7 linked regions of the Homo sapiens genome follow. The protein of the gene in region 6 interacts with the protein of the main gene of each other region in a pairwise test. Each region holds a gene or a part of one and is shown on either strand. Other genes may lie near its edges. The genes, in order: RIPK2, IKBIP, TRIM22, NDUFA13, PPP1R12C, NOD2 and ANKHD1-EIF4EBP3.

Region 1 (3,500 bases), on a different chromosome or scaffold from region 6:
TCTAAGTGCTGGAATGCCTCAGAGCTTTACTATGGGTCCTCTCTTTGCTATGTATATTCCCTTCTTAGATGAACCAGTCCAGACTATCAATATGTTAGTGATGTTCAATTTTATATTAGGATCCTGGACTCTTCCTGGAACAACAGATTCATGTATTGTTGTAGTAGTAGCAGCAGTAATTATGACCGTTTCTACTTGCTGGCTATTATAAACAATGCTGCTATCACTAATCACATACAACTGTGTGAACATATGTTTTCATTTCTCTTGGTTTACCTGTTAGTGGATTGCTTGGTTGTATGGTAAATTTATCTTTCATTTTTAAGAAACTGCCAAACCGTTTTCCAAAGTGGCAGCATCATTTTATATTCCCACCAACAATGTATACGGATTTTGGTTCTGCCACATCACTGTCAACACTTGTTATTTTCTGTCTTTAATTATAGCTATTTTGTGGGTATGAAGTGGTAACTCATTGCAGTTTTAATTTGCATTTCCAAATGACTAATAATATTAAGCATCATTTTATGTGCTTTTTAGCTATTTGTATATCTCCCTTGGTGAAATTCAAATCTTTTACTCATTTAAAAATAGGGCTATATGTCCTATTATTGACTTGTCAGGGTTTTTTATATATTCTAGAATCAAGCCCTTTAGCAGATACATGTTATGCAAATATTTTCTCCCAGTCTGTGGCTCTGCTTTTTTTTTTCCTTCTTGGAAATGAGGTCTTGCTATGTTGCCCAGGTTGGAGTGCAGTAGCTATTCATAGGCACGATCACAGTGCACTATTACACATCCTCAAACTCCTGGGCTCAAGTGATCCTCCTGCCTCAGCCTCCTAAGTACCTGGGACTAAAGTCGTGGACACTAAATGCCTGGCTTTCTCTTTTCTCAATAGTACCTTTCGAAGTGGAAAAGTTTCCAATGTTTGCAAAGTCTGATTATAAATTTTTTAATGAATCCTATTTATTTTTGATGTCATATTTAAAGATTCTGCCTAACCCTAGGTCATGAAGATTTTCTCCTACATTTACATTTGGATGTCTGATCCATTCTACCTCTGAAATACTATCTTAATTCTGTAACTCTTCTGTCTTCAGAATTTCCACCTTAATTAGAATATTCCTGAAAGTGTCTTTTCTAGCCTCTTTGCTTCCACTTTTGTCTTTCTCCAATCAACTTTCCACACAGCAGTAAGAATTTCACCTAAACTTCTATCAGATCATGTCACTTCCCTGCAAAAGATACTTTAATGGCTTTCCATTGCACTTGGAATAAAAATCTAACCTTTTTATGATGGCCAATAGCCTCTCTCTTAACTCTCCAATATCATCTAATTCCTTTCCTTGCTCACTGTATTCCAGCCACACAGGCCTTCTCACTGTTTCTTGAGAATATAAAACTTTTTCCTCTTCTAGGCTCAGAGCCTTTATGCTTGCTGTTTTGTTTGGCTGAATACTCTTTCTTCAGCATTTGAATGACTGGCTCTTTTTCAAGCTTCAAATGTCAGCTCAAATGTTTGCCCCTAAAAAAAGGCCTTTGTTTCCCTCCCTTAATTAGTCTATTACCTTGCTTATTTCCTTATAAGACTGTCACAATTTGTGTATCTTGCTTATTTATTTGTTTTCACTCTGCCTTCTCAACTAGAATGTGAACTAGCTACAGAAAGTTTGTCTTGTTTACTACTCTGTTCCCAGGGCTCACTCCAGTATATACATAGCACATGGTAGGGGTTTAAGACATATTTGTTAAATATATGAAAGAAATTGTTACTCCTATCACACGATTTCTCTTTTTTGTTAGGAATTCTCAATTCTGCTCTAGAAGGAGTTACTCATATATAAATGCTATGATAAGACAGAAAATAATTTAAACAACTTCTAGCTAGTCATCTAATTTGCACAATTTTTCAAGGAATATTTTATTCACAGTATATTAACTAATTCTGTAATTCAAAGAGTCTAGGTTAAAACTATATACTCACTTAAGAAAGATGGTCTTTCATCTGGATTTTGTGCCCATCCACTTTCTATTAGAGAGATCATACGTGCTCGGTGAGGTATATCATATGGCAAACTTTCTTCATTAATAACAGGTCGATGTCCTTGTGACACACTATACATTATCTGCAAAGGATTGGTGACATCTGTCAAAACAAATAGATTGCATTCATTAGTAATATATTATGATTAAGCATATTACTTACATCTAAAACTAACTAAAAGAAAATAAGTGAATATTGAAATTTTAGGAATGATGCCTTACCCCCCTTTCTGTAAAAGGAATATATATACCCCAAACCATTGCCAGACTTGTCTGATTCCTATGGAATGAGTTTATATCCTCACCTCATTAATTTTGGGCTTGACCATGTGATTGGATTTGGTCAACAGAGTATTTGTAAAGCAGAGCTGAGCGAAACCTTGCAGAACTAAGAAGGGCTACAGCAACCAATATTTAATGTGAATGAGAAATAAATGTTTATTTCATAAGCTACGGAGATTCCGAGGTTGTTTTTTGTTACACAACAAGCTGACCTACACAAACCTCAAAATAAAGAAATAAACAATATTTTCAGGGAATAAAAAGGACAGATTAGTCTTCGATATTTGCTAGTCTTTATAGAGGGGGTAGTAATTAAATTATCATATAAATAATTTTACAGCTAGACTAGAACTTGGAAATAGTAATTTAAAATTCTTATTATGCAGGCGACAAAAATGAGGACGCAAGAGATTTGTGACTTGATCACAGAGCTAATTACTGTCAGAACAAGAATTAAAATCTGGGTTTTTCTGATCCTTAATCCAGTACATTTTCCAGTATATAGTAGACTCACAACTGGATCCTTAACCCGGTATATTTTGCAGTATGTGATGCATTCACAACTGATAAATGGTTGTTTTAGTGTGTTTTCCACAAAATGAATAAGCAGATTTAAAATAACATGATTTTTAGATAGTTCTGAGAGTGACCTACTAACATGATGTTATTGAGCATAAAAAAGTCAAACCATACTTACCTTCAAAAGGCTGTTTTCTGGATAACACTTCCCATGTGATAACTGCATAGCTGTTTAACATAAGAACATACATGTTACATATTTTAAATGAACTCTGCATAATAAACTAAAATAGCACTATTTTTAAAAGCTGACTGAAGATACCATTTTTCAAAGTGATAAGGCAGCAAAGAATTACTGTATACAATGAAGATGATAAATGCTCATGTAGTTTGGAAACAAAATCAACTTTAAGTTAAAAAATTAGGAAATTACTGTAATACAAGCTTAACGTTACATGCAAGATTAACTTTTTGTGGATGATTTAATTCTTGGACACCCAGATAAGCTATGCCCTTTAATTAAATGATATTATTTTTCACAAAGAACAAAGAACAAGAAAAAAATTGTCTCATGGAGCTCTATTCTACTGCCTTTTTTCTGCTCTCAGCACTATCTTCTTTGGTAGTAGAAATATCTTGCCTACAGTTTAACT
Region 2 (3,500 bases), on a different chromosome or scaffold from region 6:
CTTTTTTTTTGAGATGGAGTCTCACTTTGTTGCCCAGGCTGGAGTGCAGTGGTGCAATCTCGGCTCACTGTGACCTCTGCCTCCCCGGTTTAAGCGATTCTCCTGCCTCAGCCTCCTGAGTAGCTGGGACTACAGACACACGCTACCATGCCCAGCTAATTTTTGTGTTTTTAGTAGAGATGGGGTTTCATCATGTTGGCCAGGCTGGTCTTGAACTCCTGACCTCAGGTGATCCACCCACCTCGGCCCCTCAAAGTGCTGGGATTACAGGTGTGAACCACCGTGCCCAGCCTGGCCAACATGGTGAAACCCCGTCTCTACCAAAAATACAAAAATTAGACGGGTGTGGTGGTACACACCTGTAGTCCCAGCTACTCGGGAGGCTGAGGCAGGAGAATCACTTGAACCCGGGAGGCGGAGGTTGCAGTGAGACAAGATCGAGCCATTGTACTCCAGCCTGGATGAGAAAAGTGAAACTCTGTACCACCCCTGACCTCCCCCACAAAAAAAAAAAGAAAAAAAAAAAGGAGAAATCTTGTTCAAAATAAGTTTTCAATAGCTTTTATTTATATTTATTTATTTATTGAGATGGAGTCTCACTCTGTTGCCCAGGCTGGAGCACAATGGCGTGATCTCAGCTCACTGCAATCTCCACCTCCCAGGTTCAAGTGATTCTCCTGCCTCAGCCTCCCGAGTAGCTGGGATTACAGGCGCCCGCCACCACGCCCAGCTAATTTTTGTATTTTTAGTAGAGATGGGGTTTCACCATGTTGGCCAGGCTGATCTCAAACTCCTGACCTCGTGATCTGCCTGCTTCGGCCTCCCAGTGTGCTGGGATTACAGGCGTGAGCCACCGCGTCCGGCCTTCAATAGCTTTTAATTAAATATGTGAAGTTTTGGCAAGGCACAGTGGCTCACACTTGTAATATCAATTCTTTGGGAGGCAGAGGCAGAAAGGTCATTTGAGGCCAGGAGTTTGATACCAGCCTGGGCAATGTAGCAAGACCCCGTCTCTCCAAAAAATTAAAGAAAAAAAAATTAGCTGGGTGCAGTGGCGTGCCTGTTAGTCCCAGTTACTTGGGAGGCTGAGTTGGGAGGAGTGCTTGAGCCTGGGAGGTTGAGCTGTTATTCCAACACTGCACTCCAGCCTGGATGACAGAGTGAGAGCTGGGATGACAGGGAGAGACTCTATCTGAAAAAAAAAAAAAAAAAAAAAAAAAAAAAATATATATATATATATATATATATATATATATATATGAAGTTTCTTGCCCCTGGGATTTCTTCTAATGGTATGTTAGAGTTCCCCCAACAGCTACAACCAGATTCCAATTTTTTTTTTTTTTTTTTTGGGACAGAGTCTCACTCTGTTGCCCAGGCTGGAGTGCAGTGGTATGATCTCAGCTCACTTCTGAAACCTCTGCCTCCCAGGTTCAAGCAATTCTCATACATCAGCCTCCCAAGTAGCTGGGATTACAGGCATGAACCACCATGCTCAGCTAATATTTTTGTATTTTTAGTAGAGACAGGGTTTCGCCATGTTGGCCAATCTGGTCTCGAACTCCTGACCTCAAGGTGATCCGCCTGCCTTGGCCTCCCAAAGTGCTGGGATTACAGGCATGAGCCACTACGCCTGGCTCAGATTCCAATTTGAGCCCTATGTGAAAATACCAACTCCTTTGCAGCTCCTTCCCCAAATCCCTTACACTCACCATCCATGGAATCCCCTGGCATTTGTGAGGGATACTTAATTTTCCTCCATGGCTTTTCTCTTCTGGAGGATTATATGCTCATCCTGTGCATGGGGCTGCAGGGACTTAGATGCTCCATTTCATCTCTATTTTTACAACATCCTTACCCACCCTGGTGCCAAGCATAGGTCCTTGCTTACCTTGTGACATGAGCAAAGGTTTAGTGAATGAATAAATGAACAAAAAGCCATATTTCCCAATGATAGCTTGGTCCCTGGTACCCAGAATAGGCCTACATGATGCCTTATTGATCACAGCTGACTTTGACTTTCTCCTGAGAGGTGTGGGAGTTACAAAAATGTTTATTTGTCTCACATTTCTAAGAATCACAGTAATAACGCATCTGGTAGAAATCAGCAACTTGAAGGAACACAATATAGACATGGTATTATTTTAATTTTCATTGGAATTCTTATTTGGCTACAGGACAAATAGTTACTTTTAGGCTAGCCGTTCTTTTTTTTTTAATTCTTTTTTTTTTTTTTTTTTTTTTTTGAGACGGATCCTCGCTCTATAGCCCAGGCTACAGTGCAGTGGTGTGATCTTGGCTCACTGCAACCTCCACCTCCCAGGTTCAAGAGATTCTTCTGTCTCAGCCCCCCGAGTAGCTGGGATTACAGGCGTGTGCACCACGCCCAGCTAATTTTTGTATTTTTACTAGAGATGGGGTTTCACCATGTTGGCCAGGCTGGTCTCCTAACTCCTGACCTCAAGTGATTTGCCTGGCTCAGCCTCCCACAGTGCTGGGATTAAAGGCATGAGCCACTACTCCCAGCCTAGGCTAGCCATTCTTAAATGCATGTACATATATCCTTAAAAAGCAAAAAGTAAGGGAAAAAATGGATAGATCTTTTCCCAATAAGTGCTATTCATATTCTAATTTTATGTCCAAAGATCAACCATATTTTCAGATGAGATCGAGCGCATTCAGGGTGGTATGGCTGTAGACATGATCAACCATATTTTCAATGCTCTAGATACCTGACACTTAAGTAGAAAATTAACATCATGCTAATATGAACAAATTGGTCTTTTTCAATACTAGAAATTATCATATTAAAAAATCCTTGCCCCTCAAAATGCAATCTGAGTCAAAATGGCTCAGAGGGAGAATGTCAAGAGGTAGGAAGATCAGTGAGAGTTAAAATAGTGATGGTCTAAAAGGCAGGAAGAAAGAAGTTCTGAGCTGGGATAGAGAAATGATAGTGGGGTAGTAAAATGGGAAAACCGTCCCAGATAAGCCAATTAATGATTACCTTTTCTGAAATTAAACTGATTTTACTTTGAAGTTGTTGGAATTCATTGGTTTCTAGTTTCAGTAACTGGTATTGGTTTTCCACCTTTGCAAATTTTTCTGACTGCTGAAATACAAACCTGGAAAAGAAAAGAAAAATCACTATTCTCCAATTCATATCCATTTAAATCCGAATTTCAAAGGAGAATTATACCCACTTCTGTTAAGAACAACATAAATTCTGGTATGGGTAGCTGTAGGTTTTTTTTTTTTTTTTTTCACACAGGGTCTCACTCTGTCACCCAGGCTGGAATGCAGTGTCACAATCATAGCTCACTGCAGCCTTGAACTCCTGGGCTCAAGTGATCCTCTTACTTCAACCTCCCAAATAGCTAGGACTGTCCATCTCGCTATGTTGCCAAAGGTGGTCTTTAGCCTTTTTTTTTTTTTTTTTGAGATGGAGTCTCACTCTGTCGCCCAGGCTGGAGTGCAGTGGCGCGATCTAGGCTCACTGC
Region 3 (3,500 bases), on a different chromosome or scaffold from region 6:
CAAAATTTCTTACAATTGAAAACTTTAATCTGTGACTAGCAATTTGGGACAATTTAATACACAAATTTCCCAGCCTTTTGATTTTTTAAGTTGTTCTGATTGAAGGAAGATATCTCTCAGGACTATAATTCTCTTTTCAGACAAATAAGACCACATCTCTCTTCCACATATACCTTTTCATGACGTCAATCACATCCTGGGGAAAAGATAGAAAACATGAGTCAAGATAGGGTTGCCAGATTTAGAACATAAAAGTGGCTAGTTCAATTAGAATTTGGGATAAACAATATATTTTTTGTTATATATATGACCCTTATAATATTTAAGATATTCTTATACTAAAAATATTACATTTCTTTTATCTGAAATTAAACTTTAACTGAGCATCCTGTATTTTGTCTAGCAATGCTCAAAAAAGTAATAGGCCCTCCTATCTTACAAAGTTTTATCCACCTTCCTCCCCACACTCTTACTATCCCTGGATATGGTGGGAATAAATAGATGGTCACAGACTGGGGACAAAGTGTGGAGATAAGATTCAGACTGACCACTGCAGAGGACTAAGATGAGGGTGTTAGGAAGATGCTTCAAGTATCTCAAGAAGGAATATATTTTAAAAAGAGGGAGGAGCTCTAATATTTTTATACATTTTTAATGAGAAAACCTCATTAATTCATTGTGTTTTTATTTTATACATCAACAGACACAAAACAGCGAAATACGTTTGCCCTATATTTTTTCAGGCTTTAGGGATCTAATGATGAAAATTAATAATAAAAGTCCTTAAGAAGTGTACTGTTGCCGTGAGCAAAAGCAAGCAAGCATTTCAACTAAAAGTTTGTCTGGCCTCCATGTACTCACTGTGTATGCTGACTAAACTCCACTGTAGGTGATCTCATACATTTTTCAGTATGAAACAAGCCACAGGACCAAGTAACTGAGTAGGTCTTAAATGTAACTTACTATTTCCCAACTATTTACACCCCACTGTCCCGAATAGTGTCAATATCCACTTAGTCATCATCTTTGAAACTATAAAATTTTATCCTGGATTCCAACATTTTATTAACCTAGACTAGTTTACATTTTTAACTGTTTTTAGCTATCTTTTCTTTCTCACCATAACCATTATTTCCTTTATTTTTTTGAACAAGTATGTACCAATATATTTGATCTCCCGCTGTCTGATCTGACCCCCTTTATACCAACAAAGACTTGACCTCCAGTTGACTTCACACCCTCAGAAATAGTTTCACTGCCTGTATTAGCTTTTTTGTTGTTGTAATATCTGACAAAACCAACTAAAACTGGTTTAAATTTTTAAAAAACAAATTCAAGGGGTCAAGTATAATTTTACTCATAGCTACATCTTTAAACTAAAATCTTGCCATCAGAATCTGGTTTTTCTTCTAAAAATTATATTTCATACCTATTATATTGACTTATTTTCAGATTAATTATGGCATCAGCTTGACTCTCCTGGTTTAAATTATTATCCCTGATATGATACCCATCAGAAAAGACAACGGCTCTTTTTACTCATGACAGTAAAATTCTAAGGCATGCAAACCATCGACTCCAATTGAGTCAAGTATATATCTTAAAATAATTACTGTAAAGTTGGTAAAAATATAAGAGTTGGATATAATGATTTGCCAGAACTGAGTAACATATACATGCCTAATGCTACTAATTTTGTCTACTTTAACCAACTGCAGGGAATGAGGCAGGGTAGGGATGGTTCCTCAAAAGTTATTATAAAGAAACAATCAAAAGGAATAGAGGTTAGACAGACAAACAAATATTGTCCTCTATGGTCCATTCCTCAGCTGTCTGCCACGTCTTCAGCCTTATTACCAAACTGTTTGCAAAAAATGGCACATTCCTCAGCTCTCTGCCACCTCTTCACCCTTATTACCAAACTGTTTGTGAAACAGGGCACAATATAATACAATGGCTACAATAACATTAAAAATAGATAACTTATACCATATAACCACTATAACTAAAAATAAATCAAAGACCTAAAGATATAAAACTCCTAGAAGAAAAGGGGAAAATTGCATGACATTGGATTTGGTAGTGATTTGTTGGCTATGATACAAAAAGTAAAGGCAATGTGAGAAAAAAATAAATAAACAGATCTTTACCAAAATGAAACTTTAAAAAAATCACTTTTAAGTTATGAAGAACACTATGAAGAGAGCGAAAAGGCAATCTACAGAATGGGAAAGCATATTTACAAATTATATGTCTGATAAGGTATTAATATCCAGAATCTATAAATGACTCCTAAAATTCAACAAGAAAATCAACATCCATTCAGATAAAACCTCTCAACAAACTGATAATAAAAGAGAACATCCTAAAAACTGATAAGAAACATGTATAAGTAGTATACAACTAATAACATAATTAATAGTGAAAGTCTGAATTACTTCCTCCTAAAATCAAGAAAAAGACTAGCGTGTGTGGTTTCACCACTAAGGTCAACATTGTATTGGAAGTTTTATCAAGTGCAATAAAGAAAAAAAAAGAAAGATAAAGAAGAAAAGAGTAAAAATAAAAAGAAATAAGACATCTAGCATGAAAGAGAAGTAAAACTATATTTGGTTTGGTAGAATGATTTATTTTCCTTTGGGTATATACCCAGCAGGGGGATTGCTGGGTCTAACAGTAGCTCTGTTTTAAGTTCTTTTAGAAACCTCCAGACTGCTTTCTACAATGGCTGAAATAATTTACATTTCTACCAACAGAGTACATGTTCCCATTACTCTGTAGCCTCACTAGCATCTGTTAATTTTTGACTTTATAATAATAGCCATTCTGACTGTTGTGAGATGGTATCTCGTTGTGGTTTTGATTTGCATTTCTCAGGTTATTAGCAATGATGAGCATTTTTTCATATGTTTGTTGGCCACCTGTATGTCTTCTTTGGATAAATGTCTGTTCATGACTTTTGCCCATTTTTAATGGGGTTCTTTGTTTTCTTGCTTGTAGCAAAGACATGGAATCAACCCAGGTATCCATCAATAGTAGACTGGATAAACAAAATGTGGTACATATACACCATGGAATACTACATAGTCATAAAAAAAATAAAATTTCCGGGCGCGGTGGCTCATGCCTGTAGTCCCAGCACTTTGGGAGGCTGAGGTGGGCGGATCACGAGGTCAGGAGATCGAGACTGTCCTGGCTAACAAGGTGAAACCCCGTCTCTACTAAAAATACAAAAAATTAGCCGGGCGTGGTTGCAGGCGCCTGTAGTCCCAGCTACTCGGGAGGATGCAGCAGGAGAATGGCCTGAACCCGGGAAGCAGAGCTTGCAGTGAGCCAAGATTGCGCCACTGCTCTCCAGCCTGGGTGACAGAGCAAGACTCCATCTCAAAAAAAAAAAGAAAAAAAAAGAATAAAATTATGTCCTTTGCAACAACATGGATGCAGCTGGAGGCCATAATCCTAAGCAAATTAACACGGGAACTGAAAATCAAGCACTGCAT
Region 4 (3,500 bases), on a different chromosome or scaffold from region 6:
CCGTAGATCAGGGTTCCAATCCCTATGGCCAGCATGCTGTAGCCTGTGAAGAGAGGCGCTGCTCAGCGGGCCAGCCCGCCCCCAGACACCCTCCTCCACAGCTCCAGGCGCTGCCCACTCTGCAATCAGGGGACACTGGCGGCTTCTCAGGAGTGAGGCTGCTTGGACTGTGACACCTCTGCCCCCATGCCAGGGGTTTTCTGAAAGGTACAAGCCAGGCAGCAACCTCAGGAGGCCTGAGGGTCTAGATGGTGGTTGCTAGGGGGGCCCCAGGTCCATCGTGTTCTAGAAGGCTGTTTGGACCCTGGGCGGCAGGCTGGCCCTGAAGTGGAAGGGCAGTTCTGACAGTGTCCATGGTGGCTCCCGGCCACCTGGGCCACAGTTCCGCGTGCTGCCCTGCGGGGGCTGCACACAGCTGCCAGGGACAGGCAGTGCCCTGTGGGGGCTGCCCAGCCACCCCCCGGACTCTAGGGGTGGCCGTGCTACCTCTTGGCTCTGCAGGGTGAAGCCCCCTGCCCTGCACCCCAGGAAGGACCTAGGCCATCATGAATATTTACTGAGCACCAGTGGGGCCTTGCTCTAATCCTGACTGACAGGCTGGGGGCCCACTGGGATCTTCAGAGAGGCCTGGGCTGTCTGGGATCTGGCTCCCAGGCTCACCCTGCACCCTCCAGATCCTTCCAGCCCCAGTCTCTTCTCTGGACAGGCTTTGCACTTGGTGGGATGAATGAAAAGCTCAGGTAGGCCAGGCTCCAGTCAACACCCAGGAAATGACCAGCAGGTGGAAGGCAAGGCCATCTCCAGGCCTCCAGGGCACTGGCCCTGCTCTATGCCTGCTGGGGCTACTCTGTGCCTGCCGGGCCCTGCTCTGCACCTGTCATGCTCTTCTGCCTTCAGCTCTGCTCCAGCATGGAGCTCACGGGGGCACCTCTGCTAGACCCGGAGATAAATGAGAAACTGGCTCAAATTTGTACCTGGTTATTTAACCTGTTAGAAGCCCAAGTCAGGGCTAAGACATTTCCATACTACAGGTAATGAGGGTGTGCTGGGTCCGGGCTCAGAGGCACATCTCTGGAGAGGCCCAGGGTGCTCAGGGCCAGCTCCCAGCTCTCAGCCTCCTGTCTAGCACATGGGAGGTTTCATCAGCTGCCTTGTTCATTTTTTTTTCCTTTTTTGGTTTTTGGTTTTGAGACAAGGTCTCACTCTGCTACCCAGGCTGGAGTGCAGGGGCGCAATCATGGCTCAATGCAGCCTCCAACTCCTGGGTTCAAGTGATCCTTCCACTTTAGCCTCCCGAGTAACTGGGACCCCAGGTGTGTGCCATGTCCAGTTAACTAATTTTTGTACAGATGGGGTCTTGCTATATTGCCCAGGCTGGTCATATCTCGTTCTTTTCTTTTTTTTAATTAATTTATTTTTGAGACGGAATCTCACTCTGTTGCCCTGGCTGGGGTGCAGTGGCAAGATCTTGGCTCACTGCAACCTCTGCCTCCTGGGTTCAAGCGATTCTTCCACCTCAGCCTCCGGAGTAGTTGGGACTACAGGCGCCCACCACCACGCCAGGCTAATTTTTGTATTTTTAGTAGAGACAGGGTTTCACCATATTGGCCAGGCTGGTTACGACCTCCTGACCTCATGATCCACCTGCAAGTGCTGGCATTACAGGCGTGAGCCACCGTGCCCGGCCATATCTCATTATTTTCCACGGCTACAGAGAACCCAGGGGACAGACCTGGGCTGCCCTCAGCCTTCTGGTGCAGAAAATGGGCCCTTGGGGAGAACCTGCACCCTCACACCTGCGCACTCATACGCAGGCCCATCTGTAAGATAAATTCCAAAGAAGAAATAAATTCCAAAACTTATCCCACAGCTGTGTGTACAAGACAGCGTGGCACTGGCATAGAACAGAGATGTATGAGATGACAGAAACAATGCAGGGCCTCTTGTATTTGCATGCAGCCTGCACAGGGCTCTTCCTCCTCGCCAACCACAGGGGGGCCAAGGCCCCAGGCCTCAGAGTCTGTGCCTTAGGAACTGCTAGTCTGGTGGGGAACATGGTGAGGGGCACGCACAAAAGGGTGTGTGGACCATTCTTTTTGTTTTTGGTTTTGGAGACCGGGCCTCTCTCTGTTGTCCAGGCTGGAGTGCAGTGGTGGGATCAAATTTTTTCGGCTCACGCTTGTAATCCCAGCATTTTGGGAGGCTGAGGTGAGAGGATCACTTGACTAGGAGTTTGCAACTAGCCTGTGCAACACAGTGAAACATTTACAAAATACGTATTTTATTTTATTTTTTGAGACAAAGTCTCGCTCTGTAGCCCAGGCTAAAGTGCAGTGGTGCGATCTCAGCCCACTGCAACCTCCGCCTCCCAGGTTCAAGTGATTTTCCTGCCTCAGCTTCCTGAATAGCTGGAATTACAGGTGCACGCCACTGTGCCCAGCTAAATTTTTGTATTTTTTAGTAGAGACGAGGTTTCACCATGTTGGCCAGGCTGGTCTGGAACTCCCAACCTCAGGTAAATCCATCTTCCTCGGCCTCCCAAAGTGCTAGGATTACAGGCATGAGCCACCATGCCCGGCCCAAAATACATATTTTTAAATTAGCTAGATGTGGTGGCACGTATCTGTGGTCCCACCTACTTGGGTGGCTGAAGTGGGAGTATCACTTAAGCCCAAGAAGTCAAGGTTGCAGTGGGCTGAGATGGCACCACTGTACTCCAGCCTAGGTGACAGAGAAAACTTTGTTTCAGAAAACAAAACCAAAAACAAAAACAAAAAAAAAAGAAAAATATATTTTTCATAGAAACAGGGTCTTGCTATGTTGCCCAGGCTGGTCTTGAACTCCTGGCCTCAAGCAATCCTCCCACCTCAGCCTCCCAGAGTGTTGGGACTACCAGTATGAGCCACTGAGCCCGGCCTTGGCCATTCTTAAGAGAAGACCAAAATAAATAAAAACCCATCCTGTGTTCAAGAATTGGAGCACTTAGCATTGTGCAGATGGCAACGCTGTGCAAACTGATACAGATTTGAAACGCAATCCCCATCAGAATCCCAACCATTTCTTTTCCTGTTGCAGAAACTGACAAGCAGGTTGGGAAATTCATATGGAAATGCAAGGGACCAGAACAGCCAAAACAATTTTGAAAAAGAACAAAGTTGAAAGACTCACACTTCAGTATTTCAAAACTTATCCCACAGCTGTGTGTACAAGACAGTGTGGCACTGGCATAGGACAGAGATGTTCATCAATGGAACAGAACTGAGAGTCCAGAAATAAACCCTCACATTTATGGTCAATTGATTTTGGACAAAGGTGCCAAGATAATTCAATGGGAGAGAAAACAGTCTTTTCAACAAATGGGATAACCAGACAGCCACATGCTAAAGAATGAGGATGCGTTCCTTCTTTATACCATCCACAAAAATTAACTCAAAAGGATCAAAGACCTGCCGGGCGCAGTGGCTCACGCCTGTAATTCTAGCACTTTGGGAGGCCAAGGC
Region 5 (3,500 bases), on a different chromosome or scaffold from region 6:
GTCAGGTCTGGGTGTGGGGTGACCAGCTTATGCTGTTTGCCCAGGACAGCCTAGTTTTAGCACTGAAACCCTCAGTCCTAGGAAAACAGGGATGGTTGGTCACTGTCTCTGGGTGACTCTTGATTCCCGGCCAGTTTCTCCACCTGGGGCTGTGTTTCTCGTCCTGCATCCTTCTCCAGGCAGGTCCCCAAGCATCGCCCCCCTGCTGTGGCTGTTCCCAAGTTCTTAGGGTACCCCACGTGGGTTTATCAACCACTTGGTGAGGCTGGTACCCTGCCCCCATTCCTGCACCCCAATTGCCTTAGTGGCTAGGGGGTTGGGGGCTAGAGTAGGAGGGGCTGGAGCCAGGATTCTTAGGGCTGAACAGAGAAGAGCTGGGGGCCTGGGCTCCTGGGTTTGAGAGAGGAGGGGCTGGGGCCTGGACTCCTGGGTCCGAGGGAGGAGGGGCTGGGGCCTGGACTCCTGGGTCTGAGGGTGGAGGGACTGGGGGCCTGGACTCCTGGGTCCGAGGGAGGAGGGGCTGGGGCCTGGACTCGTGGGTCTGAGGGAGGAGGGGCTGGGGGCCTGGACTTCTGGGTCTTAGGGAGGCGGGGCTGGGCCTGGACCCCTGGGTCTGAATGGGGAGAGGCTGGGGGCCTGGACTCCTTCATCTGAGGGCGGAAGGGCTGGGGCCTGGCCTCCTGGGTTGAATGGGGAGGGGTTGGGCCTGGACTCTGGAGTCCCTGGTGCCCAGGCCTCAGGCATCTTTCACAGGGATGCCTGTACTGGGCAGGTCCTTGAAAGGGAAAGGCCCATTGCTCTCCTTGCCCCCCTCCCCTATCGCCATGACAACTGGGTGGAAATAAACGAGCCGAGTTCATCCCGTTCCCAGGGCACGTGCGGCCCCTTCACAGCCCGAGTTTCCATGACCTCATGCTCTTGGCCCTCGTAGCTCCCTCCCGCCTCCTCCAGATGGGCAGCTTTGGAGAGGTGAGGGACTTGGGGGGTAATTTATCCCGTGGATCTAGGAGTTTAGCTTCACTCCTTCCTCAGCTCCAGTTCAGGTCCCGGAGCCCACCCAGTGTCCACAAGGCCTGGGGCAAGTCCCTCCTCCGACCCCCTGGACTTCGGCTTTTGTCCCCCCAAGTTTTGGACCCCTAAGGGAAGAATGAGAAACGGTGGCCCGTGTCAGCCCCTGGCTGCAGGGCCCCGTGCAGAGGGGGCCTCAGTGAACTGGAGTGTGACAGCCTGGGGCCCAGGCACACAGGTGTGCAGCTGTCTCACCCCTCTGGGAGTCCCGCCCAGGCCCCTGAGTCTGTCCCAGCACAGGGTGGCCTTCCTCCACCCTGCATAGCCCTGGGCCCACGGCTTCGTTCCTGCAGAGTATCTGCTGGGGTGGTTTCCGAGCTTGACCCTTGGAAGGACCTGGCTGGGTTTAAGGCAGGAGGGGCTGGGGGCCAGGACTCCTGGCTCTGAAGGAGGAGGGGCTGGAACCTCTTCCCTAGTCTGAGCACTGGAAGCGCCACCTGTGGGTGGTGACGGGGGTTTTGCCGTGTCTAACAGGTACCATGTGGGGTTCCCGCACCCAGATGAGAAGCCCCCTCCCTTCCCCGTTCACTTCCTGTTTGCAGATAGCCAGGAGTCCTTTCGTGGTTTCCACTGAGCACTGAAGGCCTGGCCGGCCTGACCACTGGGCAACCAGGCGTATCTTAAACAGCCAGTGGCCAGAGGCTGTTGGGTCATTTTCCCCACTGTCCTAGCACCGTGTCCCTGGATCTGTTTTCGTGGCTCCCTCTGGAGTCCCGACTTGCTGGGACACCGTGGCTGGGGTAGGTGCGGCTGACGGCTGTTTCCCACCCCCAGGCCTGCATTGATGAGAACCTGGAGGTGGTGCGCTTCTTGGTGGAGCAGGGCGCCACTGTGAACCAGGCAGACAACGAGGGCTGGACGCCACTGCACGTGGCCGCCTCCTGTGGCTACCTAGATATCGCCAGGTGAGGCAAGGGAGGGCCGGGCAGGACCTGGTCGGGGTGGGGGCCTGGACCCTCAGCCCTGACCAGCCCCCACCCCCAGGTACCTCCTGAGCCACGGGGCCAACATCGCCGCCGTCAACAGTGACGGGGACCTGCCCCTGGACCTGGCCGAGTCGGACGCCATGGAGGGGCTGCTGAAGGCGGAGATCGCCCGCCGAGGTGGGCTCTGGTGTGCTGTGTGTGGGGTGGGGGACACCTCCTCACCCGTGGTCTCCAGGCTGAGAGCTTTAGAGGCGGCCTGGGCACCGAGGCTGACCCTGCTTCCTAGGATTGTCTTTCTTTGTGCCTCAGTTTCCTCACCTGTGAAATGGGGGTGTAGGGGCCTGCCTCCAGGATTGCTTGGAGCCCAGCACACGCACAGGATGAGAACTCAAACCCCTACCAACTGGGACTGTCAATCCCCCTGAGTAACTGAGGGGATTGGAATGCCGGGGCGGGGTGGGTGGGTGGAGGGACTCACCCAGGAGTGCGTTAGGTAGGATTGCTGGAACCCTGCCGCAGGTCTTTCTGGGAGGGGATGCGTTTACTTGGGGGGGAGTAGGGGCATGCAGGGGTTGCCAGGGACTGGTCTCCCTGTCCTCTGAGACTCATCGTACCCCAGGAGCCTTCATATGGGGTCCAGGAGCCCCTGAAACTGTGTCTGGCCAGGTTCATTTTTCTAGGGAAGGGGTGTTGCTTCTAGCAGGTGTGTGATGGCCACACAGGATCCCTGGGTCCCCAGCATGTCTTCTAAAGTCCTGGGCTTGCCTCCCAGCTCTGCCTGTGACTGGTGACTCCAGGCACGTCCCTGAAGCTTGCTTCCCTGATTTCCTAAAACAGGACCACTGGTGCCGCTTCATGGGGTGGTTGTCAGGGTCTGGCTGGGTTGGAGTGGAAGGGTGTGAGCATGGTTCCCGGCAGACTCCAGGGGACCGTGTGGAAGGAAAGGGAGACTGACGAGGAAATGAGATACCGGCAGCCTCCGAGACTTCTGACGCGGCTGTCCTGACGGGGCCGCTGGCCAGGCTGAAAGGATAGGATTCCGCGTGGGTTCAGGGGTCCACGAGAGCCATGCGGGAGGACTAGCTAGTGGGACACGTGACGGCGGAGATCTGAGGTTCGGGAGCCCCTCTTTGGTTGAAATGGGGAGTGGGTCAAATCAGCCCTGGACCTGGATTCTGTCTCCTTCCTCCTCCAACTTTTTATTTTGGGAAAGCTTCAGATTTACAGAAAAGTTGAAGCAATAGCATGTGACTACCCATATGACTTTCACTAAGATTCGCCAGTGCTTTTTCTTTTTTGTTTTTGTTTTTTAGACAGCTTTTTGAGATGTAATTCACCTACCCTACAATTCACCCAAAGTGCACACTTCAGTGCTTTTTAGTCTATTCACGGGGTCGGGCATTTATGACCACATTGGTTGTAGAACATTTTCATCATCCCCCAACGAAACCCTGCAACCGCTTAGCCATCACCCCCAACCATGCACCCCCCCCTCCCCCCCACCCC
Region 6 (3,500 bases):
AAGCAATTCTTTACTTTGTCTTTTTTTACTGCCTCACAAATCACAGGAGGCAAGAATATCTGAGAGAGAGAGAAGGAGAGAGAAGCCAGGCCAACCCAGCGGCCAGCTAGAGGGGCAATTTAAAGGCATCAGGTAGGAGAGAGAGAGACTCCTGTTGAAACTGGGAGACACTGGAGTAGCAGAAATGCAGAACCAGATGGACTGCAAACCTTGCATGCTCTGAGTGGTGAAAGGACCTCCTGGGAGTGTTGCAGCAACTCGCTGCCACAGCTGGGGTGGCAAGTAACTGTGTATGCCTCCCCCACCAGGACGAGCTCAACATGCATCGTGGAACTCAGTAAACCCAGAAAGCTGTGACACTCTTAGACACAGAAAAGGAAAGGGGCCTAGAAAAGCTTTCTTGCCCTACGGGCTAAAGGTCAAAAGACAGGAAGTCCTCAGCAGAGCTAGTCCAGAGTTTACTGGGGAGATCACAGCATTAGAGAACCCCTGCTTAAAATGAGACACTGTCCCTGCATTCAATCAGGAGGTCAGGAGCCAGTGTGGGCAGTGCCAGGCCAAGACCAGATCAGACTGACTCAGGAATGGGGCAAAAAATAGTTTCCAGGGAATAAGGAAAACCTGGGCTCACCTCAATGCCAAGAAGTTCTGCCTGCATGCAAGGAGCTTAGCCATGGAGTGTGCACAGCCGTCAGTCAATTTGTTGTTGAATAGACTGTTCAGTTCCAGAAGAGAGGAGACACAGAAGCAAAGCACATTGGACAGTGAGCACCAAATCCCAGGGTTGCCCTTCCCCTCTGGGCAGGAATCACCTGCACCCCCCATCATGCAAACAGCCCCTGCCCCAGCCCATCACTCACAGCTTCCCAGGCTGCACGACCTGGGGTGAGACCAGGGCACTTGGAGCCCATTGTCCACAGCCCAGGCTGACTTACGCTAACTTCTGCAATTGCTCGCAGTGAAGAGCACATTCAATGAGCTTGCAGATGCCTCGGTCTGAGATATTGTTATCGCGCAAACTAAAGAGACAAAATAAATACATTTGAAAATGGAGCTAGTAAGACAAGAAAAAAATCTACAAATCCCCCAAAAAGACTTTCATTCATCCCTGAAGTGCCAGCATCTGTGCTTCCAGGAAACCCTGCATAGATGGAGCACCCCAAAAAAGTGGAGACCCCACGGTCCCTGGCCAGGGAGGTGACGTGGTGCACTATGATGGGGATGGCCCAGGACGTAGGATCCAGACCCCCTACTAAAGAACCCTGGAATCCTTAGGAAATGACAGAGCTAATTTGAGGCAATGTTTCCATCTCTGCAAAAGGAACATGATAATCACAGCAGCCTCACAAAGGGGATGATGGTGGAAAGGAGCTGATATATGCGAAAGGTGCAGCCTGAACTAGACAGGCTACCCCTGGGGACAATTTACCATCATCTAGGTCAGCAGACAGTAGACCAGCTGGATGAGAGTGGCCAAAACTTCAGAAACAGGCATATAGGCTGTGGTTAGTGAGGCCCTGCTGCCCAGTCCTTAACCCCAATGGCACCACTCCAACAGGCTAGTCCCTGCCGAGCAAGCCCTGTCTGCCACTCCTCTTGGGGCACCATTCCCAAAACTCACCTGATCACAACATCATCTGAAAGCTTCCCTAAAAGACAGATTCTCAGGCCCATACCCTGGAGCTGGCAATCAAGTATCTGCGGGGTGGGGCCCAGGAATCTGTATATTTTAACAACTGTGCACATGATTCTTTATCTTTAGGCAAACTTGGGAGGCCCTGACTGAATGGTTAACAGCTCAGGCTCTGGAGTGCCTCAGCTGGATATTGTGATCCTGATCAGCGACTTACTAGTTATTTGCTGGTCTCTTCATCTATAAAAGAGGGAACAGGCCGGGCACGGTGGCTCACGCCTGTAATCCCAGCACTTTGGGAGGCCGAGGCGGGCGGATCACGAGGTCAGGAGATCGAGACCATCCTGGTTAACACAGTGAAACCCTGTCGCTACCAAAAATACAAAAAAATTAGCCGGGCGTGGTGGCAGGCGCCTGTAGTCCCAGCTACTTGGGAGGCTGAGGCAGGAGAATGGCGTGAACCCGGGAGGCAGAGCTTGCATGAGCCGAGATTGTGCCACTGTACCCCCTGCCTGGGCAACAGAACGAGACTCCGTCTCAAAAAAAAAAAAAGAGGGAACAATAGTATTATCAGCCTCACCAGGCTGTGCACATAAAGCCTTGTGAGCACCCGGTACACAGTAAAAGTCACCTAGAATCATGATCGCTAGCACTGATCACTACCCTTACCACTTCTCAATAATAACACTATTTCATCCTCACAACAAGCCAGTGAAATGGGAACCATTATTATGAGCATTCGTGAGAAAGAAACTGAGGCACAGACAAGCGAAGTGACTTTGCCAAGGTTGTACGGCACATAAAGGCTTTGAGCCTAGGCGGCTTGGCTCCAAACCCCACTCTTAACCATGACATTGTGCAGCTTCTCCCTCAGGGCCTCTTATGGCCACTTCTGTAGTGCAGTGATTTTTCAGACTGCAGGTTGCAGGTCATGCAAATCATTTTGAAGGTCCTGAGCAGCATTTCTAAAATGGAAATAGAACAGAACAGAAGAGAGCAGAGTGTCTCAGAGTTCATAAAGCGAAGTCATTTTGTGAAACTTAGGTTCCATGTTTACATGGTGGTGCGTGCTCTCTCTCTCTCTTTCTCAATCATTGTGGGTAACATTCAAAAAACTTTTAAAGCCATCACTCTAGAGTCTGAGAGAGCCAGAGTCTAAAGAAACCTATATAGGGGCACTGTGTATATAGGGTTTCCTAGAGGCTGAGGATTTCAGTTGGCATGGAAACACTTCAAGTGGGAGAGAGGCAGGTTGGCACTGTGGGAGAGGAGCCTGTGCCCTCCCCCTTCCTCCCTTCCTCTCTTTCTCAATCTCTCTCTCTCTCTCATACACACACACACACACACACACACACACACACACACACACAGTGCACTCACAGCAACCTCATGGTTGCTTCCCCTCCCCTACGGCCTTGGCAGTTTTAGTGTGTGTAAGGTGAAGAGCAGTAAAACTCGCTCAAGGACAGTAATTGCTAATGGAAAACCAAGCTGGTTGCTGCAGACCAGTAGTTCTCCCAGGGCGAGACCACTTGTATCAGAATCACCAGGGGTGTCTGTGAAAAATATAGATTTCCTGGGCCCCACCCCAAACCTACTGAATGGGAATCACTAGAGGCAGGCCCAGGAATCTGCATTGCCACGAGTGCCTTTACACACCACAGTCTGAGCACCATGAGCTAGAACCAGGCCACCCTCACCTTTCTCTGAACACAGAGACAGACCCACAGGTTTCCCAGAGCCCTTCTGCACACCCTGGTAATCACGGGGACATCCCTAATCAAGGATGGATGATCCATTCAAGAATTCCAGAGATGGACTGGCCTATGAGGATCACACAGGCCAGTGATGCCTGGCCTCTTGGGGT
Region 7 (3,500 bases), on a different chromosome or scaffold from region 6:
AAATTTTAATATTGGTTACCTTGAAGGGTAGAATTTGAAGAATTAATGGGGGTGGGAAGAAGCACTTTTACTTTTCCCCTTATACCTACTATCTATATTGTTGAGTTTTTCAACAAGTAACTATTTTGTAATAATTTTATTATTTTCTAATTTTTTGAGATGGAGTCTTGCTCTGTTACCCAGACTGGAGTGCACTGGTATGATCTTGGCTGACTGCAGCCTCCGTCTCCCGGGTTCAAGAGATTCTCCTGCCTCAGCCTCCCAAGTGGCTAGGATTACAGGCGCCTGCCACCATACCCAGCTAATTTTTGTATTTTTAGTAGAGACAGGCTTTCACCATGTTGGCCAGGCTGGTCTCAAACTCCTGACCTCAGATGATCCATCCGCTTTGGCCTCCCAAAGTGGTGGGATTACAGGCGTGAGCCACCGCGCCCGGCCACTTTTGTAATAATTTTAAAAGAGGGCCGTCACACACACACATACACACACAAACACACATATACACACACATTCATTCTTACGACAAAAATTGAAAACCATGTCTCACACAATCTTTTCTTTAGAAACTGTATTTTTATTTCGATTTGCTAAAAAAATTAAAAGACCACAATTCTAAAATTAAAATTTAAAAATTGGTTTTTCGGTCAGGCACAGTGGCTTACAACTTGTAATCTCTGCATTTTTGGAGGCCCAGGCAGAAGGATCCCTTGAGGCCAGGAGTTCAAGACTAGCCTGGGCAACATTTTTTTTTTTTTAAATCAGGTGGAGTGGTGGAGTACACCTCTAGTTAGACCTAGCTCTTTGGGAGGCTGAGGCAGTAGGATTGCTTGAGCCCAGGAATTCGAGGTTGCAGTGAACTATGATCATGCCACTGCATTCCAGCCTGGGTGACAGAGCAAAAGCCCATCTCTAAAAATAAATAAATAAATAAAAATAGGCTGGGTGTGGTGGCTCACACCTGTAATCCTAATCTCAAAATAAATAAATAAAAATTTAAAATAAAAACCATTTTTTAAAGTGGTTTTTTTTTTTTTTTTGGAGATGGAGTCTCACTCTGTCACCCAGGCTGGAGTGCAGTGACGCGATCTCAGCTCACTGCGACTTCTGCCTCCCAGGTTCAAGCAATTCTCCTGCCTCAGCCTCCTGAGTAGGCTGAGATTGCAGGTGCGTGCCACCACGCCCACCTAATTTTTGTTTTTTAGTAGAGATGGGGTTTCACCATGTTGGTCTGGCTGGTCTCAAACTCCTGATCTTGTGACCCACCCACCTCGGCCTCCCAAAGTGCTGGGATTACAGGCGTTAGCCACCGCACCAGGCCTAAAGTGGTTTTTAAGAAATTTTTAACCTAACTTCTATTCTGAACATGGATACATTTCTTAATAGGATTCAATGCAGTGCTAGCTCTTCTAATCAAGGGCTTCGATAGCTAAGAAACATGCTAAGAATGCCTGAAGAAATACGAAGCAGGTATTTACCCCAATGTTTAAAATAACAAAAGGGCCAGGTGGGTGACTCACGGCTGTAATCCCAGCACTTTGGGAGACCTAGGCGAGCAGATCACCTGAGGTCAGGAGTTCGAGACCAGCCTGGCCAATATGGTGAAACCCCCATTTCTGCTAAAGATAGAAAAATTAGCCAGGCATGGTGGCACGCACTTGTAATCTCACTACTGAGGCAGGAGAATCACTTGAATGCAGGAAGCAGAGGTTGCAGTGAGCTAAGATCGTGCCAGCCTGGGCGACAAGACTCCATCTCAAAAAAAAAAAAAAAATGTACTGAAAGATGTGAGTCCATTCCTCTAACCAAAAGGTCTTTTGCTTGGCCAGCAAGAAAGAGTAGCTTGTTTTTTCTCAGCTCTTGGCTCTGATATTAAATATAAAGAGGTCCTTAGAGGGTCTACTCCTCTGTACACAAAATGTAGAAGACCAACTAATTCTAGAGCAAAAATACTAGGGCTCCACATTTCTTATTTCTCACCTAATCCTGCCCCATTAGAGCAACAAGACAAACTTCACTCCCAAACTACACACCAATTCATCATCTTTTTGGATGTCTAGGTACTTGTTTCTAAAATAATTTATTTTTTTTTTTTTTTGAGACAGAGTCTCTCTCTGTCACCCTGCCTGGAGGGCAGTGGCGTGATCTCGGCTCACTGCAACCTCTGCCTCCTGGGTTCAAGCGATTCTCCTCCCTCAGCCTCCTGAGTAACTCAGATTACAGGCGCCCTCCACCAAGCCCGGCTAATTTTTTGTTTTAATAGAGACAGAATTTTGCCATGTTGGCCAGGCTGGTCTCTAACTCCTGACCTCAGCTGATCCACCCGCCTTGGCCTCCCAAAGTGCTGTGATTACAGGCGTGAGCCACCATGCCCGGTGGTTATAAATATTTAGGAAAAATGAAGGCCAGGCATGGTGGCTCACACCTGTAATCCCAACACTTTGGGAGACCAAGGTGGGAGAATCACTTGAGGCCAGAAGTTTGAGACCAGCCTGGCCAACGTGACAAAACGCTGTCTCTACCAAAAATATAAAAATTACCTGGGAGTGGTGGTGGATATCTGTAATCCCAGCTACTCAGGAGGGTGAGACAGAAGAATCGCTTGAACCCAGGAGGCGGAGGTTGCAGTGAGCCAAGATCGTGCCACTGCACTCCAGCCTGGGTGACAGAATGAGACCCTGTCTCAAAAAAATAAATAAAAATAAACAAAATATTTAGGAAAGATGAGACGGAGGATTTTAGTATTATTCATCAAATGCCAATTACATGAGTATTTTTTGAAGAACACTGTTACCTTTTCACACTGAAAATTCAAAGGCAATAATAATAAAAGAAGACAGCTCATCTTGTCAGACAGAAAAAGAAAAGGGAAAATTTTTGCTTGGCCAAAACAGGTCATTTTATTCACAAAGGCACAGACTATACTCTACCACACATACTATAAAGACTAGATACTCCAAGAATTTCCTCTCTATGTGATATGGGAGAAACAGGACCCAAAAAAAATTTCCTGCTTACACAGATTAAGAAAGCATCTATACACCCACTAAGCATCATCTTAGATTAGGCTAAAGTGGGTATCCTAGAAACTTCCATTCCAAAAATGAGGTCTACATGTACTCTTAACCTGTAAATCCTTTTAGGCACAGAAAACATAAGTAAACAGGAGAATATGGGGCTCTTCTAACATTAGGCACCACTAAGTGGGTGTAGGAATCACCAACACATGACTTCTACAATAAGCTTCAAAAATACAAAAGGCATGGATTCTGCCCATAGCTTTAATTACATGGTATGGAGACTCCAAAGACCATTACACATACACACACACACACACACACACACACACACACACACACACACACACAGACATGCACAGTCAGAAAGAGAGAGAGACAAATTTATGACTTTGGGGGCAAACTAGTGCTCTACCTGTGAAGAAATTTAAGACTATTACTTATAAAAAAGCAAATGGTTGCCAGGCACAGTAGCGTGTGCCTATA

What was found.
Region 1: the proteins of NOD2 (region 6) and RIPK2 interact in binary tests that used the Homo sapiens proteins (3 or more experiments, as listed by UniProt).
Region 2: the proteins of NOD2 (region 6) and IKBIP interact in binary tests that used the Homo sapiens proteins (3 or more experiments, as listed by UniProt).
Region 3: the proteins of NOD2 (region 6) and TRIM22 interact in binary tests that used the Homo sapiens proteins (3 or more experiments, as listed by UniProt).
Region 4: the proteins of NOD2 (region 6) and NDUFA13 interact in binary tests that used the Homo sapiens proteins (3 or more experiments, as listed by UniProt).
Region 5: the proteins of NOD2 (region 6) and PPP1R12C interact in binary tests that used the Homo sapiens proteins (3 or more experiments, as listed by UniProt).
Region 7: the proteins of NOD2 (region 6) and ANKHD1-EIF4EBP3 interact in binary tests that used the Homo sapiens proteins (3 or more experiments, as listed by UniProt).

Annotation. Positions count from the first base shown.
Region 1 is NC_000008.11:89,771,316-89,774,815, reverse strand, and holds part of RIPK2 (receptor-interacting serine/threonine-protein kinase 2), read right to left. Parts: intron 3,076-3,500; coding exon 3,026-3,075; intron 2,150-3,025; coding exon 1,988-2,149; intron 1-1,987.
Region 2 is NC_000012.12:98,631,289-98,634,788, forward strand, and holds part of IKBIP (inhibitor of nuclear factor kappa-B kinase-interacting protein), read right to left. Parts: intron 3,126-3,500; coding exon 3,008-3,125; intron 1-3,007. UniProt on the Homo sapiens protein: Target of p53/TP53 with pro-apoptotic function.
Region 3 is NC_000011.10:5,703,290-5,706,789, reverse strand, and holds part of TRIM22 (E3 ubiquitin-protein ligase TRIM22), read right to left. Parts: intron 197-3,500; coding exon 174-196; intron 1-173. UniProt on the Homo sapiens protein: Interferon-induced E3 ubiquitin ligase that plays important roles in innate and adaptive immunity.
Region 4 is NC_000019.10:19,522,725-19,526,224, reverse strand, and holds part of NDUFA13 (NADH dehydrogenase [ubiquinone] 1 alpha subcomplex subunit 13), read right to left. Parts: intron 44-3,500; coding exon 1-43. UniProt on the Homo sapiens protein: Accessory subunit of the mitochondrial membrane respiratory chain NADH dehydrogenase (Complex I), that is believed not to be involved in catalysis. Complex I functions in the transfer of electrons from NADH to the respiratory chain.
Region 5 is NC_000019.10:55,111,138-55,114,637, reverse strand, and holds part of PPP1R12C (protein phosphatase 1 regulatory subunit 12C), read left to right. Parts: intron 1-1,842; coding exon 1,843-1,973; intron 1,974-2,052; coding exon 2,053-2,171; intron 2,172-3,500. UniProt on the Homo sapiens protein: Regulates myosin phosphatase activity.
Region 6 is NC_000016.10:50,714,106-50,717,605, reverse strand, and holds part of NOD2 (nucleotide-binding oligomerization domain-containing protein 2), read right to left. Parts: intron 2,599-3,500; coding exon of another isoform or gene 2,598-2,598; exon of another isoform or gene 2,125-2,597; intron 1,998-2,124; exon of another isoform or gene 1,851-1,997; intron 1,020-1,850; coding exon 936-1,019; intron 716-935; coding exon 632-715; intron 1-631. UniProt on the Homo sapiens protein: Pattern recognition receptor (PRR) that detects bacterial peptidoglycan fragments and other danger signals and plays an important role in gastrointestinal immunity.
Region 7 is NC_000005.10:140,404,833-140,408,332, reverse strand, and holds part of ANKHD1-EIF4EBP3 (ANKHD1-EIF4EBP3 protein), read right to left. Parts: intron 1-3,500. UniProt on the Homo sapiens protein: May play a role as a scaffolding protein that may be associated with the abnormal phenotype of leukemia cells. Isoform 2 may possess an antiapoptotic effect and protect cells during normal cell survival through its regulation of caspases.